Homo sapiens: one gene and its partners. The protein of the gene in region 3 purifies or fractionates together with the protein of the main gene of each other region. This does not show direct contact. Each region holds a gene or a part of one and is shown on either strand. Other genes may lie near its edges.

Region 1 (3,728 bases), on a different chromosome or scaffold from region 3:
GGGAACAGAGTGAGACCCTGTCTCAATAAAATTAATTAATTAATTAATTTTAAGAAAAAAAAGAACGGCAGCTAAAGGCAAACCATAATGAAATGCCAAATATTTAAATAATTTAATTTTACACTTTAAAAAATCAACATTAAGTCAGCATTAAAAAATAAATTACAAGTATGTCTTGCTTTCTGTCTGACATTTTCTTGGAAATTAGGTATAAACTTAATTTTTGCAAAGAAAGTCACATAATAAAACATTAGGAGACTCATTTACTTAAAGGGAGTCTTGGCTGGGAGCGGTGGCTCACGCCAGTAATCCCAGCACTTTGGGGGGCCCAGGTGGGCGGATCACGAGGTCAGGAGATCAAGACCATCCTGGCTAACACGATGAAACCCCGTCTCTACTAAAAGTACAAAAAAATTAGCCGGGCGTAGTGGCGGGCGCCTGTAGTCCCAGCTACTCGGGAGGCTGAGGCAGGAGAATGGCGTGAACCCAGGAGACGGAGCTAGCAGTGAGCCGAGATCGTGCCACTGCACTCCAGGCTGGGTGACATAGCGAGACTCCGTCTCGAAAAAAAAAAAAAAGGGAGTCTTTTAGCCGGGCGCGGTGGCTCACGCCTGTAATCCCAGCACTTTGGGAGGCCGAGGCAGGCGGATCCCTAAGGTCAGAAGTTTGTGGCCAGCCTGACCAACATGGTGAAACCCCATCTCTACTAAAAATACAAAATCTGCCAGGCTGGTGGCACATGCCTGTAATCTCAGCTACTCGGCAGGCTGAGGCAGGAGAATCTCTTGAACCAAGGAGGCGGAGGTTACAGTGAGCCAAGATCGTGCCATCGCACCCTAGCGTGGGCAACAAGAGCAAAACTCTGGCTCAAAAAAAAAGGTAATACCTACTCCCGGCCGGGCGCGGTGGCTCACGCCTGTAATCCCAGCACTTGGGAGGCTGAGGCAGGCGGATCACGAGGCCAGGAGATCGAGACCATCTTGGCTAACACGGTGAAACCCTGTCTCTACTAAAAATATAAAAAACTAGCCGGGTGTGGTGGCGGGCGCCTGTAGTCCCAGCTACTCGGGAGGCTGAGGCAGGAGAATGGCGTGAACCCGGGAAGCGGAGCTAGCAGTGAGCGGAGATCGCGCCATTGCACTCCAGCCTGGGCAACAGAGCGAGACTCCGTCTCAAAAAAAAAACCGAAAAACAAAAAAAACCTACTCCTTCTTTCCTCAAAAATATGACTTGTTTAATATAAACTACATTAGCACGACTTGACAAGTTTTCTTTTTATTCAATCCCTTTAGTCCTCTAAACAACCTATAGATTCAAATGTCTAGAAACACCCAGAGTAGGCCCTTCATCATGATGTAAAAATTCCTCTCTGTAGGATGATTATTTGTTAGAATTCATGGATTACAATAAAGTTATAGACTTTAAAGAACTTGTCTAGTGAGATGAGTAACTGAGTTACCTTGAATAGAAGTTAGTCTAAATAATTTTTTACTCATGTAACAAAAGGTAAATTTCAAATAAAACGATCATGCTATACAGACCAGTGATTTTAGGCAAAATTAAATGCCAACTGTGATTCAGAAACTAATTACGTTTTCCTTAATTTTAGAAATACAGATTTGATCCACATTTTAAAGGGTTCATTTTCAAAGTATATTTCAAAAAAATATTATTTCTAGTGGCTCAATTTTCAAATACCTTGGCCTTCCATTTCGATTCAGCCAACTACCGAGCTTGCTCTTGCCTTTGGATTGATTTTGGTATTGTTCAGTGCCATTCTGGGTAAAAACATAGGAAACCCATCAAATTTTGCTTCTCCTGGTATTTTCACAGGTATTACTTTTCTACTCTTCCCGTAATATGCCTCAAGCTTTTAATGTTAGCAAGTTTAGAAAAAAGATTTTCAAACATGAATTTCAGATACACACACACACACATACACAAAAGTACAAAATACCTGTCAAAATTTGGCAATATGCCAAGAGCTGGGGAGAACACAATCATTGCCCTAAAGGAAATCTATAATTTTAACCCATAAACATTCACCTGAAAGACCCAAAGGACACATAAGCATTAACCACATATACACTGAAGTAGTTACATAATATATCAGTGAATGACTATGTTTTGCAGGGTGACGGGTAAAGTGGGACTTATTGGAGTTGTATGTTAAGATACGTAGTTAGGATTTTTTTCTGAGGCTGTCAGTACATTTCAACTGAGAAAAAAGCATTTCCAGCACAAGGTGCTGCCTGAGACAAAAAAAATTCCAGCACAAGGTGCTGCCTGAGGAAAAGGTCAGAGTGGTCTAAGTTGATGGAGGAGAGCAGCTGTATGAATCTCTGTTTCAGAATTACTGCAATAGATTATGGTGTGAGCACTGTCCTGGAATAAAATAGACTAGTCAGGTCTTGTACACAAAGAACAAAGAACTTGGTCCTAAACCAAAGTCAATGTAAAGTCACTCAAAATTGGTTCTCAGCTGCTTTGGATATGATCCAGAAATTCCACTCCCAGGTATATACTGAAAACATACATCCACCTAACAAGTCACACATAATTGCTTATCGAAGCATTATTCATTTTAGCCAAAAAGTGGAAACAACCCAAACGCCCAATTGATGAATATATAAACAAAATGTGGTATATCTATACAATGCAATATGATCCAGCCATAGAAAGGTATGAAGTACTGATACATGTACCACATGGATGAACCTTGAAAACATTACATTAAATAAAGAAACACAAACACAAAAGGCCACATGTTGAATTAGTCCATTTATATGAAATGTCCAGAACAGGCAAATCCACTGAGACAGAAAGTAGATTAGTGCTTGTCAACGGCTGGGGAGAGAGGGGAATGGGACTGACTGCTTAATGGGTTTCTTTTTGGGGTCATGAAAATGTCCTAGGATTAGACAGTGATGGTGGTTGCACAGCCTCGTCGATCTACTAAAAAACACTATACTGATCACATACTTTTAAAAGGGTGAATTTTATGGTATGTGACTTATATCTCAATTTTTAAAAAGGAGCTCTCAGCATTTTTTCTGCTACAATACATCTGAAGAACATAACTCCATCAGTAAAGGCAGCTTACTACAGCAAGGACTGGTTTTGGGACTTTGACAATAACTATATTAAAGAATATTCAGAATCATGATACCAACAGTCTTTAAGTACTAAGGTCAAAACAACAGGTAAAAGCCACCTTTTAGTGACATCAAGAGCTGCCTTGAGGTGATAAAAGATTGCTAAAGAGAAAAGATAATTTCTAAGTAACATGACCAAGGCTACGTAATCTGGTGTGAAGGAAAAAATTCACAAAGTGTTCTGAAGGAGGAAAGGATAGTAGGAGTTTTATTTTCTAGCAGCAGCTAAGAACAGAAAAAGAGTCAAGAGACAATGAGGATTGGATTCAATAGTGAAAGGCACTACAAGAAAGATTAACACCAGTCACAGGGAATCAAATGTATTTATCAACACTGATTTGCCATACATAGTTCCCATCTAACAAATGAATCACATTTCAAATGTTTATAAATCAGAATTAGAACACATTTGCCCAGAGAATTAATTGTCAAAGTAGTTACGTTTGCAAATGGCCTATAATAATTATAATTTTTCATTATTTCTGTTTTCCTAGCTGAAATTCAGCATGCCAGAAGCCCTGTCCCTACCTTTCATCTTTCCACACATCAGAGCCCCAACAAGAGAAATTCCAT
Region 2 (3,500 bases), on a different chromosome or scaffold from region 3:
AAGCCACCCCAGCCTGGGCGTGATACAATATCCTAGGGGCTAAGCCACCCCAGCCTGGGCGTGATACAATATCCTAGGGGGGTTAAGCCACCCTGGCCTGGGCGCGATACAATATCCTAGGGGTTAAGCCACCCCAGCCTGGGCACGATACAATATCCTAGAGGGCTAAGCCACCCCAGCCGGGAGGAGGCATGACATCCTAGAGGGGTGAAAGCCCAGCGTCTAGAATCAAACAGCTGTATCCAATTCCACCAGCATCAGCACTGTTCTCACACATGCTCCAGCTCCCTCAGCCCTCCCCCTCTACAGAGAAACCTGTCCTGGGAGCAGACTGTGTACTATAGCTAAGGGACAAGCACGGAGCACAGCTACGCTGCAGGGTCCCATTGTAAACGGCCAACTACCCATCCCCAGGGCCCTTGGTGCCGTCCTGCAATCCTGGCCCAATTCCTTGGTCTACTCACCCTCTCTTCACTGCCGCCAGCACCGCCTCAACCCACCACCCACCTCTCACCTGACACCCAGCTGAGTGTGACCCACACACCACCCCATCCCCCAAACTCCCTGTGTAGCTCCTACCCACTCGAGGACCAGCCTTCCAGGTGTCCTGGACCCTCCTCTCACCTGCACAGTAAGGCACTCCAGCAGCTCTCATGCTCTTAAATGATCACTGTCCCCTCCTTGCTTGATCCTCCCAAACACACTAATAGATATAGCCTTAAAAAGAAGGCCCTCCGTGAACACCCCTCTGAGCTTGCTTATGAACTCACTAGGCTCCCCTTTTTGTCTCCTGGCAATTCCTCCTGACCTCTCGACACTGGGACAAAGAGCTCAGCTCCCAACCCCTTTCTTCACTACCTAAACTCATATCCACACCACCTCGTCCAAATGCTACCCACATGCTCAGAAAGACCTCCAAATTTATACCCCCATCAGCCCCTGAGCTCTAACTCCTAACTCAATAACCTCATTGCTGCTGTAACTTCCTCCTGGATATCCAGAAAGCACAACAGTTCAAACCCCCAACTCCTGATACCCACTGCAGCCCACAGCCTGCTCCTGCAGCCTCCCACCTCAGGAGACAGCAACTCCCTCTCCTGGGCCTCCAGCCAAGAGCCTGGCTGTCAGCTTTCACTCTTCTCCCTCACACCCCATGGCCAGTCCTTCAGCCAATCCTGCTGCTGCTTCCTTCAAAACACACCTAGACACCTACCACATCTCCCACCTCCATCAGCCAGAGGCCACTCTCAGTGCTTGCCTGGATTCATTCCCTGCTCCTATTGCACCAACCTTCTCTACACAGCAGAGTGATCCTTTCATTAACATCTGAATCAGCTTATGAAACACCTCTGGTCCAACTTTCTAGCAAATAAAAAAGCTACAGTCAAAATTTTTGGCCAGGACATGGAACAATGGGAACTCATATTTCTTGTAGGATAAAGGCTCAGCTGCTTTGAAGGACCAGGTGGCCGTTTCTTACAAAGTTAAGCATTATCCCTGAGATCCAGCAAGTCCATCATTCTAGGTATTTATTTACCCAAGGGAAAAAGAAACATATCCATGAAAAGACGTGGACAAGAATATTCACAAAAGCCTTATTAAGAATAGCCAAAAATGAGCCAGGCACAGTGGCTCACACTTGTAATCCCAGCACTTTGGGAGACCGAGGTGGAAGCCCCGGAGTTCAAAACCAGTCTGAGCAACAAAGTGAAACCCTGTCTCTATAAAAATTAGCTGAATGTGATGGTATACACCTGTATTCCCAGTTACTCAAGAAGCAGAAGTGGGAGGATCGCTTGAGCCCAGGAGGTGGAGGTTGCAGTGAGCCATGATCACGCCACTGCACTCCAGCCTGGACATCAGAGCGAGAGACTGTCTCAAAAGCCAAAAATGAGCTGGGCACATTGATGCACACCTGTAGTCCCAGCTACTAGGGAGGCTGAGATGGGAGGATCACTCGAGCCCAGGAGTTGGAGGCTGCAATTCACTATGATCACACCTTTGAATAACCACTGCAATTCAGCCTGGGCAACAGAGAAATCCCTGTCTCTAAATTTTTTGTTAAAGCCAAAAAGGGGAATCCCAAATATCTACCAACAGAAGAATCGGTGAACAAATATGTAGTATGGAGAGTACCCAGCAATGAAAGAACATAGCCAGGTGGTGTGAATATGAGTTTCAGTAGTGGAGAAAGGGGTTGGGAGCTGAGCTCTGTGTCCCGGTGTTGAGAACGTAAACAGGTAAATCTCAAAAACAGTGTTGGATAAGAGAAATCAGAAACAAAAAATGACATACTAGATTATTCCATTTACATGAAGTCCCAGAACAGGCAGAACTGGATTTGTTTTCCTGAGATGGAGTCTCGCTGTATCTCCCAGGCTGGAGTACAGTGGCGCGATCTCAGCTCACTGCAACTTCCACCTCCTGGATTCAAGCAATTCTCCCTGCCTCAGCCTCCCAAGTAGCTGGGATTACAGGCGCCCACCAAACACCCAGCTAATTTTTGTATTTTTTAGTAGAGACAGGGTTTCACCATGTTGGCCAGGCTGGTCTTGAACTCCTGACCTCAGGTGATCCACCCATCTCGGCCTCCCAAAGTGCTGGGATTACAGGCATGAGCCACCGCGCCTGGCCCAGAACAGGCAGAACTTATCTGTGGTGCAGAAGTCAGGAGGCAGCAGGCTGTTGGGTAGGGTCTATAGACAGGTTAATGGTGCCTCACTGTTCCCACAATATGGCTCCAGCCCAGGTAAAAAGTTCAAGGGGAACTCTCCACACCTTCTGACTCTAGCCTGCGATAAAACAGGCCCTTGCCATGTTATCACCTGGGGTCTAGATGGGACAAAAGTGCCAGACACTGATTTTAAACAAGGGGCCTGGAGAGGATGCTGCATTAATGGAGCCAGGCCTGGTGAGCCTCTCCTCTACAAAAGCCTTCCGGCCAGGGGCAACAGCTCACATCTGTAATCCCAGCACTCTGAGAGGATCACTGGAGCCCAGAAGTTTGACACCAGCCTGGGCAACATAGCAAGACCCCCATCTCCACTAAAAAAAAAAAATCAAAAAATTAGTCAGGCATGATGGTGCACACCTGTAGTCTCAGCTACTCCGGAAGCTGAAGCAGGAGGATGACTTGAGGCTGGGAAGTCAAGGCTGCAGTGAGCTATGATTGCATCACTATAGCCCAGCCTGGGTGACAGAGCAAGACCCTTTCTCAAAAAAAAAAAAAAAAAAAAACCGTCTCAAAGCAGAGGAACTGGGGTTTCCCATTATGTTTCAGGACTACCTGAGTCACTTGCCACTTTAGGACAGGGAGCAAGGGGAAGACACTAAGCAGTCTGTCTTAAACGGACCCCAGAGTGGCTGGCTCAATGAGCTCTTGCTTCTAGGAGGTAGGTACCCCCAATAAGTCCCAGTAAGGAGGGGGCAGTCAAAATCACTCACGGCTGAGACCCCATCTCCATAAAAAGAAAAAAAAAAAATCACTCAGGGTCTTTTCA
Region 3 (3,728 bases):
GAGATAGCGCCACTGCACTCCAGCCTGGGTGACAGAGCAAGACTCCACCACAAAAAAAAAAAAAAAAAAAAAAAAAAAAAATATATATATATATATATACACATACATATAGCTTTTCAGACGTACTTCTTAAAAAAAAATCCTCTAGCTGATTAATATTATAAAGAACTACAGATATAATCCAAGGCAAATATGATAGAAATGTTAAATGCAGTTCTAGTAAATCATCTAGTAAAATATCACCTCTTCCACCAGAAACACTAATAGCATGTACCACACATTGGGAATATTCAAAGTACTTTTACACATATTACTTCATTTAATCCTCATAAGAACCATAAGAGGTAAGGACTATCTTTGTCATGTTTTTACAGACAGAGAAACCTAGGCACAAAGGGGATGAATAAAATAAGTTGTCCAGGCCAGGTACAGTGGCTCATGCCTGTAATCCCACCACTTTGGAAGGCTGAGGTGGGTGGATTGCTTGAGCTCAGGAGTTCAAGACTATCCTGGCCAACATGGTGAAACCCTGTCTCTATGAAAAATACAAAAATTAGTGGGGTGTGGTGGTGTTGTGCCTGTGGGCCCAGATACTTGAGGGGCTGAGATGGGAGACGCTTGAGCCCAGGAGACAGAGGCTACAGTGAGCCGAGATTGCATTACTACACTGAGCCTGGGTGACAAAGTAAGACCCTGCCTCAAAAACAACAACAACAACAAAAAAACAAAAAACAAACAAAAGGCTAGGCGCAGTGGCTCCCATCTATAATCCCAACACTTTGGGAGGCTGAGGCGGGCAGATCACTTGAGGTTAGGAGTTCAAGACCAGCCTTGACAACATGGTAAACCCCATTTCTACTAAAAATACAAAAATTAGCCAGGCGTGGTGGCATGTGCCTGCTGTAGTCCCAGCTACTCAGGAGGCTGAGGCAAGAGAATCACTTGAACCCAGAGGCAGAGGTTGTACTGAACCGAGATTGCGCCACTGCCCTCCAGCCTGGGCAACAGAACAAGACCCCATCTCAAAAAAAAAAAAAAACATAAAAAACTTGTCACATACCTCAGTAGTGAAGCAGGAATTCAAATCCAGCCAGTCTGACCAAAGTCCATGCTCTGAATCACTATGCTACTGAATTGCCCATACTTACAAATAATTTGGTAACTCTTAATTACATCCAAGCCTATAAACAGACTTCTGGAAGTATCAGGTTTACAAAGATACTTGAAATTCTTAGATGAGATAGGCTACACATGCATACAAGCAATGCTGCTAATTAATTCTCAATGTGATTTTAAGTTAGAGCTCCAGAAGTAAATGGTAAAACATTAAAGGTGGAGTCCAGGTAGAAGTGGTCAGTGGCAATTTAAACTGCCGTATATTGTTTAAAGCTCTACATTCATTATCAACTATAATTGCTCAAAGTACTAATTTTGTCAGAAAATTGTTAGTTGTGGCTCTAAAATCACCTGGCAAATTTTTAAGCCATAGGATATCATAATGAATTGGCCTAGGAAATGAAAAACACACAGCAACCAAATCAATTTAAAGAAATTTTACCTCTGCTAACCTTGTCCGAAGCTGACCTGGTTGTTTCTTTGCAAACAATCTGATGACCTCTGGGGTTTTAAAGGCCTGGCTGATAGCTGCCTGAATAGCCTAGAAACACAAGAAGGCAAAAACTAACCAAAATAGTCCAACAAATCAGATATTGCAATAACTGATTGACGGATCCTTAATTTTTATCAAGGTTTACTGGTTCCTGTCATGGAAGCAATTACACAACTAAATGAAGATCTGGAAGGATATGTTGTGTATGCATAAACAGACACTCATCTAGAAGTTACACCTTGGGAGGCCAAGGCAGGAGGATTGCTTGAGCCCATGAGTTTGAGACCAGCCTTGGAAATGTAGCAAGACCCCATCTCTAAAAAAAAAAAACTAAAGGCCAGGCACAGTGGCTCACGCTTGTAATCCCAGCACTTTGGGAGGCCGAGGCAGACAGATACCTGAGGTTGGGAGTTCAAGACCAGCCTGACCAACATGGAGAAACCCCGTCTCTACTAAAAATACAAAATTAGCTGGGTATGGTGGCACATGCCTGTAATCCCAGCTCCTCAGGAGGCTGAGTAAGGAGAATCGCTTGAACCTGGGAGGCGGAGGTTGCAGTGAGCCAAGACTGCCCCACTGCACTCCAGCCTGGGCGACAGAGTAAGAATGCATCTCAAACAAAAACAAGAACAAACAAAAAAACAAAGTCTGTCCTCTGTCGCCTATATGTTATACTTACCAGCTGCATTCCACTTAGTTCATCTACCAAAGTCATATTTCCAGACATAATTTTCTTTAGTGAATCATTAAATTCACTTAGTTGCTCCAGAGTTTCCTTTTTGGTTTCTTCATATTCATCTGTATCAAGTTCCTCTCTGAAATAGGTGAACATCATGATATGGAAAAATGAAGAGTTCCAAGTGAAAAATGCAATCTTAATACTTGTACATTAGAGAAAGACTGAAGGGAAATATCAAAATGCTGATGGTGAATGTGTTCACATAGTAGTAGTGAGGGCATTTTCCTGCAATATAGTTACTTTGGTAAACATTTTTCTTTTACCAAAATGAGGATACTTAAGAAACCACATAATAAAGCAGGGTGCCGTAGCTCACACCTGTAATCCCAGCACTTTGGAAGGCTGAGATGGGCAGATCACCTGAGGTCAGGAGTTCGAGGCCAGCCTAGCCAACATGGTAAAACCCCGTCTCTACTAAAAATACAAAATTAGCCGGGCATGGTGGTGCATGCCTGTAATCCCAGCTACTCGGGAGGCTGAGGCAGGAGAATCGCTTGAACTTGGGAAGCAGAAGTTGCAGTGGGCTGAGATCTCGCCACTGCACTCCAGCCTGGGCAATACAGCAAGACTCTGTCTCAAAAAAAAAAAAAAAAGCTGCAATGAACTGTTGTGGTCCTTTGTGCAGGTAAGGCTGAAACTACATGCCAGAAGTTCAAGTAGTACCTTCTTAGCCTGACAGCAGGTAGGACTGATTTAAATACTAAAGACAAAGTAGGTGTTATTTCTACTTCAAGGAAGGTAAGTATTTTGCTCAAGTTCACATGCACTTAGTAGTTAACTGAATGACTTTCATTTCCCAGCCTTTATGACTCCAAAGCCTGCAATAAGTTTACTTCTCTAATAGACAAAGCACTGCAAAGAACACTACAGGGGAATGCAGAATCATCACACATGGGCCTGCATCCACGGAGCTAGCTGCAGAAAAAACGCCAGTTTCCAGCATAACAACATACAATTAAACTCTTACCTGCATTCCTCCAGATCTTGTAATTGTTGCATGAGTCTATCCAACTGTTCTTCTAAATTCTGCTTTAATTTGCTTGTCTCTGTCTTTCCTCTGGAAGCCATTTTAATCTCTATGTGAAACAATAAACCCACATACCATATGAAATTAACATACCAGTGCAATTTTTTTAAGTTTTATTTTTTGTAGAGACAGAGTCTCACTATGTTGCCCAGGCTGGTCTCGGAACATCTGGCCTAAAGTGACCCTCCCATCTTGGACTACCAAAGAGGTGGGATTATAGGCATAAGCCACCACACCCAGTCCCTAGTGCAATTAAAAATATGCAGCTGCGGCCAGGCGCCGGTGGCTCAGGCCTGTAATCCCAGCACTTTGGGAGGCCGAGGCGGGTGGATCACAAGGTCAGGAGATCAAGA

The links.
Region 1: the proteins of LZIC (region 3) and CDK8 purify together in Homo sapiens (affinity purification with mass spectrometry; one large-scale study listed by BioGRID and IntAct). This does not show direct contact.
Region 2: the proteins of LZIC (region 3) and GINS2 purify together in Homo sapiens (affinity purification with mass spectrometry; one large-scale study listed by BioGRID and IntAct). This does not show direct contact.

The regions. Positions count from the first base shown.
Region 1 is NC_000013.11:26,260,600-26,264,327, reverse strand, and holds part of CDK8 (cyclin-dependent kinase 8), read right to left. Parts: intron 1-3,728.
Region 2 is NC_000016.10:85,682,455-85,685,954, forward strand, and holds part of GINS2 (DNA replication complex GINS protein PSF2), read right to left. Parts: intron 1-3,500. UniProt on the Homo sapiens protein: Required for correct functioning of the GINS complex, a complex that plays an essential role in the initiation of DNA replication, and progression of DNA replication forks.
Region 3 is NC_000001.11:9,933,204-9,936,931, forward strand, and holds part of LZIC (protein LZIC), read right to left. Parts: intron 3,425-3,728; coding exon of another isoform or gene 3,417-3,424; coding exon 3,316-3,416; intron 2,425-3,315; coding exon 2,289-2,424; intron 1,658-2,288; coding exon 1,559-1,657; intron 1-1,558.